Linked DNA regions of Homo sapiens: region 1 is linked to region 2. Evidence: fine-mapped expression QTL. A gene starts in region 2. The other region holds a variant in brackets. All regions are shown on one strand. Distances are from middle to middle.

Region 1 (5,392 bases), 59 kb after region 2:
TCTCTCAGCCAGCCCAGTAGCATCTGAAACATCCCCAATGGACTTGCCCTTTAGTTTACTGATGGCTATGATGGTGCTCAGCTGCAAGTCCATCTGCCTCTGGGCTGTGATCTGCCTCAGGCCCACAGCGTGGGTAACAGGAGGGCCTTCATACTCCTGACACAAATGAGGAGAATCTCTCCTTTTTCTTACTTGAAGGACAGACATGACTTTGATTTTCCATCATCAGGTGTTTCATGGCAACCACTTCCAGAAGGTTCAAGCTATCTTCCTTTTCCATGAGATGATGCAGCAGACCTTCAACCTCTTCAGCACAAAGGACTCATCTGATACTTGGGATGCGACCCTTTTAGACAAATTCTACACTGAACTTTACCAGCAGCTGAATGACCTGGAAGCCTGTGTGATGTAGAAGGTTGGAGTGGAAGAGACTCCCCTGAGGAATGTGGACTCCATCCTGGCTGTGAGAAAATACTTTCAAAGAATCACTCTTTATCTGACAAAGAAGAAGTATAGCCCTTGTTCCTGGGAGGCTGTCAGAGCAGAAATCATGAGATCCTTCTCTTTATGAACGAACTTGCAGGAAAGATTAAGGAGGAAGGAATGAAAACTGGTTCAACATGGAAATGAGAAACATTTCCATGATTAATACATCATCTCACACGTTCATGAATTCTGCCATTTCTCATTTTTGCTATATCCATGACATGAGTTGAATCAAAATTTTAAAATGTTTTCAGGAATGTTAAGCAGCATCATGTTCAGCTGTACAGGCACTAGTTCCTTACGGATGATCATGCTGATGGATCTGTTTATCTATTTGTCTAAATAATTATTTAACTATTTATACTATTTAAAATCTTCTTTTCATGTATCATGTATTTTTACTTTGTGGTTAATATAACAATACATGTTCTTTATATTTAGTCAATATATTACTTTGCTTTTTTCATTAAATTTTTACTATGGAAAACTCCTTGTATTTGTTTATTCTTTAAAATGAAACTCCAAGCCTGATTATTTAACCTGATTAAAAAATAGATTATACGATTCAGTTACCTATTATTGGTTATAAGTCAAAATAGATTTTTCTATACCAGATTGTATGTTGTATGTTGCCTTCAGGATATAAAATTGAAAAAACAAATACATTTCCTGTTCTCATGTACCTTTGATTTTTGTGAGGAAAGAAACTTATAAACAATAATCGTTCTCAATTGATATCAGTTATGTTAAATGCTATAATGTGAGATAGGAAAAAAAAAACAATGAATTTCTCATAGAAGAGGATGGATTTAGGCATTCCAGAAATAAAAATAAAAGAAGCAATATCCTCAATAAATTGACTTCTAAACATACAATTGCAAATGTGTATTTCCAGTCAGATATATGAATTTGCAATTTTCAAGAAATACAATGCCTGAAGGTTCATAACTGGCAATGGAAAGCCCAAAAATAGAGGCAGTCATGTGGAGAGGAAAAAGAAAAGTAAAGGAAAAAAGAACCTAAAATTGATTCTGAGGACCTTCCACCTTTAAAGAGAGGGGATATAAGAGACACAAAGGAAGCAAGGGTGGAAAACTGTACATTAGTGAAGGAAAGACTTAATGGTGATAAATGTGTGTCTTGAAAATAAATGTATTTAGAAGAAGAATCAATAGACTTGGGGGAAATATGGATTAAAACTGTCCACTACATCAGAAAAATAAATGGCAGTGGAGATCTTAGTGAGAGCTGCATTGGTAGAATTAATCACTATAAACCGTATTGCAGTAGGTGGAAGCATGAATCAAAGAAGGGAAATCTGTGACAAAATAGATAAGAAATAGTTGTGAGAGGTTTCCCTTTAAGATAAAGGAAAGAAATAAGGTTAGACATGAAAAAAAAAGTGGATCACATTTCATTTTACCTGCATGGTTTATCCGTTTGAAAATATATATGTCTGCAGATTGATTTCATGCATTGAAAAGCTGTTAATATACTTAATATTTTATAATATCAAATTATAACATATAAAGTTGCAATAATTATAATTTTGATTAGTACTATGTTAATTGTCAGTAAAACCTGACAAACTTCCTTCATAAAATAAAATGGAAAACTGGATGAAAGAATCGCTTTCTCAACGCTTTAAGAAAACAAAAAAAGATTGGTCACAAGTATCAATAGCCAAATCAATCAAGTGGAAGAAACGATATCAGAGATTGAAGATCAACTTAATGAAATAAAGTGTGAAGGCAAGATTAGAGAAAAAAGAATGAAAAGAAATGAACAGACTCTAAGAAATATGGGACTACGTGAAAAGACCAAACGTACGTTTGATTCGTGTACCTAAAAGTGAAGGGGAGAATGGAACCAAGTTGGGAAACACTCTTCAGGATATTACCCAGGAGAACTTCCCCAACCTGGCAAGACAGGTCAACATTCAAATTCAGGAAACACAGAGAACACCACAAAGGTACTCCTTGAGAAAAGCAAACTCAATACACATAATCGTCAGATTCACCAAGGCTGAAATGAAGGAAAAAATGTTGAGGGCAGCCAGAGAGAAAGGTCGGATTACCCAAAAAGAGAAGCCCATCAGATCAACAGTGCATCTCTCTGCAGAAACTCTACAAGCCAGTAAAGAGTGGGGCCCAATATTCAACATTCTTAAAAGAATTTTCAACCCAGAATTTCATATTCAGTCAATCTAAGCTTCATAAGCAAAGGAGAAATAAAATTCATTACAGAAAAGCAAATGCTGAGAGAT[T/C]TTGTCACCACTAGGCCTGCCCTACAAGAGCTCCTGAAGGAAGCACTAAATATGAAAAGGAAAAACCAGTACCAGTCACTACAAAAACATATCAAATTGTGAAGACCATTGAAACTATGAAGAAACTGCATCAACTAATGGGCAAAATAACCAGCTAGCATCATTATGACAGGATCAAATGCACACATAACAATATTAACCTTAAATGTAAATGGGAAAAATGCCCCAATTAAAAGACACAGACTGGCAAATTGGATAGAGTCAAGACCCATCGGTGTGCTGTATTCAGGAGACCCATCTCACATGCAAAGACACATAAACTCAAAATAAAGGGATGGAGGAATATTTACCAAGCAAATGGAAAGCAAAAAAAAAAAAAAAAAAAAAAAAAAAGCTGGGGTTGCAATTCTGGTCTCTGATAAAACAGACTTTAAACCAACAAAGATCAAAAAGAAAAAGAAGACAAAGAAGGGCTTTACATAATGTTAAAGGGATCAATGCAACAAGAAGAGCTAACTATTCTAACTATATATGCACCCAATACTGGAGCACCCAGATTCATAAAGCAAGTTCTTAGAGACCTACAAAGAGGTTTAGACTCCCACACAATAATAGTGGGAGAATTTAACACCCCACTGTCAATATTAGACAGATCAACAAGACAGAAAATTAACAAGGATATTCAGGACTTGAACTCAGCTCTGGACCAAGCAGACCTAATAGACATCTGCAGAACTTTCCACCCCAAATTAACAGAATACACATTCTTCTCAGCATCACGTCACACTTATTCTAAAATTGACCACATAATTGGAAATAAAACACTCCTCAGTAAACGCAAAAGAATGGAAATCAAAACAAACAGTCTCTCAGACCACAATGCAATCAAGTTAGAACTCGGGATTAAGAAACTCACTCAAAACCCCACAACTACATGGAAACTGAACAACCTGCTCCTGAATGGCTACTGGATAAATAATGAAATTAAGGCAGAAGTACATAAGTTCTTTGAAACCAATTAGAACAAAGACACAGTGTACCAGAATCTCTGAAACACGGCTAAAACAGTGTTTAGAGGAAAATTTATAGCACTAAATGCCCACAGGAGAAAGCAGGAAGGATCTAAAATCGACACCCTAACATCACAATTAAAAGAACTAGAGAAACAGGAGCAAACAAATTCAAATGCTAGCAGAAAACAACAAATAACTAAGATCAGAGTGTAACTGAAGGAGATAGAGACACGAAAAACCCTTCAAAGAATCAGTAAATCCAGGAGCTGGTTTTTTGGACAGATTAACAAAATAGATAGACCGCTGGCCAGACTAACAAAGAAGAAAAGAGAGAAGAATCAAATAGACACAATAAAAAATGATAAAGAGGATATCATCACTGATCCCACAGAAATACAAACTACCATCAGAGAATACTATAAACACCTCTGTGCAAATAAACTAGAAAATCTAGAAGAAATGGATAAATTCCTGGACACACACACCCTCCCAAGACTAAACTAGGAAGAAGTTGAATCCCATTTCAGCTTTCTACATATGGCTAGCCAGTTTTCCTAGCACCATTTATTAAACAGGGAATCCTTTCTCCATTTCTTGTTTTCGTCAGGTTTGTCAAAGATCAGATGGTTGTAGATGTGTGGTATTATTTCTGAGGGCTCTGTTCTGTTCCATTGGTCTATATCTCTATTTTGGTACCAGTACCATGCTGTTTTGGTTACTGTAGCCTTGAAGTATAGTTTGAAGTCAGGTAGCGTGATGCCTCCAGCTTTGTTCTTTTGACTTAGGATTGGCTTGGCAATGCGGGCTCTTTTCTGGTTCCATATGAACTTTAAAGTAGTTTTTTCCAATTATGTGAAGAAAGTCATCAGTAGCTTGATGGGGATGGCATTGAATCTATAAATTACCTTGGGCAGTATGGCCATTTTCACGATATTGATTCTTCCTACCCATGAGCATGGAATGTTCTTCCATTTGTTTGTATCCTCTTTTATTTCATTAAGCAGTGGTTTGCAGTTCTCCTTGAAGAGGTGCTTCACATCCCTTGTAAGTTGGATTCCTAGGTATTTTATTCTCTTTGAAGCAATTGTGAATGGGAGTTCACTCATGATTTGGCTCTCTGTCTGTTACTGGTGTACAGGAATGCTTGTGATTTTTGCACATTGATTTTGTATCCTGAGACTGCTTAAGTTGCTTATCAGCTTAAGGAGATTTTGGGCTGAAGTGTTTGGGTTTTCTAAATATGCAATCATGTCTTCTGCAAACAGAGACGATTTGACTTCCTCTTTTCCTAATTGAATACCCTTTATTTCTTTCTCCTGCCTGATTTCCCTGGCCAGAACTTCCAACATTATGTTGAATAGGAGTGGTAAGAGAGGGCAGAACAAAAATTAATTCAAGATGAATTAAAGACTTAAATGTTAGACCTAAAACCATAAAAACCCCAGAAGAAAACCTAGGCAATACCATACAGGACATAGGCATGGGCAAGGACTTCATGACTACAACACCAAAAGCAATGGCAACAAAAGTCAAAATTGACAAATGGGATCTAATTAAACTAAAGAGCTTCTGCACAGCAAAAGAAACTACCATCAGATTGAACAGGCAACCTACAGAATGGGAGAAA
Region 2 (5,354 bases):
TTTATTGAGTAAGGCCAGGTATGGTGGCTCATGCCAGTAATCCCAGCAGTGTGGGAGGCTGAGGTGGGAGGATTGTTGAGGCTAGGAGTTTGAGGCTGTAGTGAGCTATGAACCTGCCACTGCACTCCAGCTTAGTGACAGAGCAAGACCTTGTGTTTGTTTTTTTTAAATAAACAAATGCAAAATGATCTGAAAGTAAAACTCGAAATAATAAAGAGAATAATTTTCAAAATATAAAGTGAGGGGCCAGGCATGGTGGCTCACGCCTGTAATCCCAGCACTTTGGGAGGCTGAGGCAGGCGGATCACAAGGTCAGGAGTTTGAGAGCAGACTGGCCAGCATGGTGAAACTCTATCTCTACTAAAAATACAAAAAATTAGCTGGGCATGGTGGCGCGCACCTGTAGTCCCAGCTACTCGGGACGCTAAGGCAGGAGAATTGCTTGACCCTGGGAGGCGGAGGTTGCAGTGAGCCGAGATCGCACCACTGTACTCCAGCCTGGGTGACAGAGCGAGACTCCGTCAAAACAAAACAAAACAAAACAAACAAACAAAATATACATAAAGTGAACACTTTTTAATGTAATTAGCACAGTGTTAAAAGTGAACATTTCATACAAGCAAAAATACTGAATACAATAAATGTAGTAGAATCAATAATTAAGTACATGGGTAAATTAATAATATCATCCATGGTGAGCTAATGCCCCTAAGAACTGGATGCTTTATCATACAGTTGCTTGACATTACCAACAAGTATTGTGACAAATTTGATTCAATCATTTCATTATGCAGGCAGAAAAGATAGTCTTTTAAAATAACTAAACATATGGGAATATAATGAAGAGTGTCTATAGTAATCATTTCATGAAGACACAAGTCTGTTCCTAAGCTATTAATCTTACTTGCAAGTTTGATGAAAAAAAGAAGGATCTCATGATTTCTTGCTCCAACTTCCCATGTACAGAGGCTCTCTTCTTTCTTTTCCAGATAGAGACTGATTCCTTGGAAGTAGCTCTTCACAGCATTAGGGAGTTGTCATGGCCTGAGAGAGCCCTTCCACCCCTAACTCATTCAACAAGCAGGGCTCCAGGACTTCCCAATGCTGATAAAAATTCAGTGAATAATTTCTCCAGGCCAGTTTCATTCCAACCAACCTCTTGTGTTGAATAAGGTGACAATCTGCTGGAGCACCTTGTGGAGGACAGTGGTAGTCTAAGCCTTCTGAATTTTGCTGCCATCCCTTGGAAACAATAGAAAACATTCAAAACAGATGAACTGCCCATCAACAGGGCACTGGTTAAATAACTTATGATGTAACAACTCAGAAGGCAACAACAGAATTGTTTAAAAATATAAATAAGCCCTCTACACTAATTCAGGAAGATCTTGAAGTGAAAAAAAAAGATGCAGAACAGTGTACATGGTATGCTATCTTTTACATAAAAACGAGGCGAGTGTAAGAAAAACATGACTACATTCTTACTTTGCATATGCATAAAGAACTAGAAGGATTTAAAAGACAGAAACTTCAAAATTTGGAAAATGGAAGAAATTGTGTCAAAGTATACATTTATTTGTATGTCAAAATTTAAATTTACCACTAATTAAAGAAATGCAAGTTAATAAAATACTCACAAAGGGAAAAGTCAGAAGAAGGGAAAGACACAAACATTGTTGGTGATAATATTTTGGAAATATTGTCTTGGATCAGTATTTTACTAAATATTATCCATAACAGGGCTAAAATTTTGCTACCAGATTGTATAAGTTTACTACCGAGTCTATAAAACAATGGAGGATAAGAAGGTACACATTCAGGAACAAACCAATGGGCAAAGGAAACTATAGTATGTATAGTTATTGGAAAATTATGTAGCCATTTTTAAAATTGTGGAAAACAAAGGCATTTCAAGCCAAAAATTTAGAATATATCATTTACATAATAAAGTAACAATCTAGTAAAGACAAATATTTTGCGTTTGAAATTGTAACAAATTTGAAAATATGAACCAAAATTGTAACTGAAGTATCTACTACATAATGTGGGATAACAATTATTGTTTTGTAGAGGAAAAAAAAAATTAAGCATCCAGGTTTCCTCTCAATTTATACAAATGCCGCATTTCACTGTTATTCAAAAAAACAGAAGCTAGGAAGCGTAAAGCTTTGAAAAATTATGCATTTGGGGAACGTAAGAGCTCAGATATGCGAAAAACTTATATCAAACGTGCAGCATAACACACTTGCTTGCACACATTCTGTCCTATTTGGTCCCACATACAAGGCAGCTCTAAGAGGCCGGGCTGGCGCCCACCCCACACAGCTCCGCTTCCCCAACCCTCGCCCTCCCGCCTCCCGGGTACTTCCTCCCCCTTCCCCACCCCCACCCTCCCGCTGACTGACGAGGTCTGGAGGCCGCGCAGCCGCAGTAGCCGCTAAGGCCGCTCCCACCCCGTGGTATCCTGGGACTAGGCTTTTCCGGAAGGAGCGGCTCGGTGTTGGGGCTAGGCCGGTATTCTAGGCCCAAGCCCAGGCCCAGGCCTGTGTTCCCGGCCCTTGCTCAAAGACAGGCCGGTGGCCGCTGCGACACTCTAGGTACAGCGGAGGGCGCAGCGGGCCGTTCGCTGAGGTGTCCGGACCCGCCGCCGAGCGGGCCGTGGAGCCACAGTACGTGGCGGCGCCTCTTCCTTGCCCGAAGCGGAACTGCTGAAGGAGCGGCAGCGCAGGCCGGACGAGGTGAACCAGGTCATTTAACCGCCTTCAGGTGATGAATCATCTGTCTAATAATCAGATTTGAGGTCCACAGCCCTTTGTGGTCCTGCTACAGGGTGATTTTCAGTGGATGACTGACTGGCGTGGCCCGAGGGGTGCCGCAGTGACTGCCTTCCCTTGATAAGGAAACGAGCTTTCTGTTCTTTCTGGACACCTCGTTACCTGTAAAACATTCCGGTTATAACTTCTTTATCCGGCTTGCATCTCTGTGCAAGAGGAAAGCTTTCACATGAAAGTGTCCCTTGGTAACGGCGAAATGGGCGTCTCTGCCCATTTGCAGCCTTGTAAGGCAGGAACCACACGCTTTTTTACCAGCAATACTCACAGTTCGGTGGTATTGCAAGGCTTTGATCAGCTTAGAATAGAAGGATTGCTTTGTGATGTGACCCTGGTACCAGGTGATGGAGATGAAATCTTCCCTGTTCACAGAGCTATGATGGCGTCTGCTAGTGATTATTTCAAAGCCATGTTCACAGGTGGAATGAAAGAACAAGATTTGATGTGCATTAAGCTTCATGGGGTGAACAAGGTTGGTCTGAAGAAAATCATTGATTTTATTTATACTGCAAAACTTTCTCTTAATATGGACAATCTTCAGGACACACTTGAAGCTGCTAGCTTTTTACAAATATTACCCGTTTTGGATTTCTGTAAAGTATTTCTTATATCAGGAGTCTCTTTGGATAACTGTGTTGAGGTTGGACGAATTGCTAACACCTACAATCTTATAGAAGTGGATAAATATGTTAATAATTTCATCCTGAAGAACTTTCCTGCTTTATTGAGTACTGGGGAGTTTCTAAAACTCCCTTTTGAACGACTTGCATTTGTGCTTTCCAGTAATAGTCTTAAGCACTGTACCGAACTTGAACTCTTTAAGGCAGCCTGTCGCTGGCTAAGGTTGGAAGACCCTCGGATGGATTATGCTGCAAAGTTAATGAAGAATATTCGATTTCCACTGATGACACCACAGGATCTCATCAATTACGTGCAGACAGTAGATTTCATGAGAACAGACAATACCTGCGTGAATTTGCTTTTGGAAGCTAGCAATTACCAAATGATGCCATATATGCAGCCAGTGATGCAGTCAGATAGAACTGCCATTCGATCTGACTCCACTCACTTGGTTACATTAGGAGGAGTTTTGAGGCAGCAGCTGGTTGTCAGTAAAGAATTACGGATGTATGATGAAAGGGCACAAGAATGGAGATCTTTAGCCCCAATGGATGCTCCCCGTTACCAGCATGGTATTGCTGTCATTGGAAACTTTCTTTATGTAGTTGGTGGTCAGAGTAATTATGATACAAAAGGAAAAACTGCTGTTGATACAGTTTTCAGATTTGATCCTCGGTATAATAAATGGATGCAGGTTGCATCATTAAATGAAAAGCGCACATTCTTTCACTTGAGTGCCCTCAAAGGACATTTGTATGCAGTTGGTGGGCGCAGTGCAGCTGGTGAACTGGCCACAGTAGAATGTTACAACCCAAGAATGAATGAGTGGAGCTATGTTGCAAAAATGAGTGAACCCCACTATGGTCATGCTGGAACAGTATATGGAGGCTTAATGTATATTTCAGGAGGAATTACCCATGACACTTTCCAAAATGAGCTCATGTGTTTTGACCCAGATACAGATAAATGGATGCAAAAGGCTCCAATGACTACAGTCAGAGGTCTGCATTGCATGTGTACAGTTGGAGATAAGCTCTATGTCATTGGTGGCAATCACTTCAGAGGAACAAGTGATTATGATGATGTTCTAAGCTGTGAATACTATTCACCAACCCTTGACCAGTGGACCCCAATTGCCGCCATGTTAAGAGGCCAAAGTGATGTTGGAGTTGCCGTCTTTGAAAATAAAATCTATGTTGTTGGTGGATATTCTTGGAATAATCGTTGTATGGTAGAAATTGTCCAGAAATATGACCCAGAAAAAGATGAGTGGCATAAAGTTTTTGATCTTCCAGAGTCACTTGGTGGCATTCGAGCCTGTACACTCACAGTTTTTCCACCTGAAGAAAACCCTGGGTCACCTTCTAGAGAATCACCTCTTTCAGCACCTTCAGATCATTCTTAGGTCTAAGGTGTAACACCTTTGCAGTACGTCATGGGTGATCTAATACTTCCCCTTCAGTTGTATCTTCTTACAGTGATTGGTACAGTTATTAGATATAAAGGTAACTGATGTTATTCGTCTTGTATGGCTTTTAGTATGTTTATCAAGTGGCTAACAAATGCATTCTGAAAATGTATTTAACATAGCTGTTTTAACAAATGAAAAAAAGACGTAGAAAAATGTTTAGATGTCTTTTTGTGATGTTATATAAAATTGTAGATGACTGTGGTAAATGTGTAATTATGTCCATTATGCTTCAAAGTTGAGTTTTCATCTTTGACTCCAAAATGTCAGAGGGAGGCCGCTCTAAACTAAAAATAACGAAAGGTTGCCAAGTATTAATACTAGTTACCTCCCTCTTTTCGTAGTTTTTGTCATGTCTGTCAACTTACTCGATTGTGTGGTTGCATTCAGAATATTTGAAGTTTCTTACGTAGACAGAAATAATAAAAATATTA

Evidence for each region. PIP is the estimated chance that this variant, and not a neighbour inherited with it, causes the effect.
Region 1: its variant is fine-mapped to the expression of KLHL9 in cerebellar hemisphere (GTEx, PIP 0.96).

Annotation. Positions count from the first base shown.
Region 1 is chr9:21,273,265-21,278,656 of GRCh38, reverse strand. All of the region lies in intron 2 of LOC107987053 (a long non-coding RNA gene), which reads right to left. It also overlaps the pseudogene IFNA22P. Among named protein-coding and RNA genes, the nearest start is that of IFNA5, 29 kb to the left of the region's middle. The variant T/C (reference allele first, on the strand shown) is at 2,753.
Region 2 is chr9:21,332,509-21,337,862 of GRCh38, reverse strand. It overlaps KLHL9 (kelch like family member 9), which reads left to right and starts at 2,459. Exons shown (of 1, transcript NM_018847.4): 1 at 2,459-5,354. The coding sequence starts at 3,004. The coding sequence ends at 4,857. LOC107987053 (a long non-coding RNA gene) reads right to left here. Exons shown (of 3, transcript XR_001746634.2): 3 at 562-1,242. RefSeq lists a silencer at 2,270-2,439 and enhancers at 2,480-2,789, 2,980-3,029.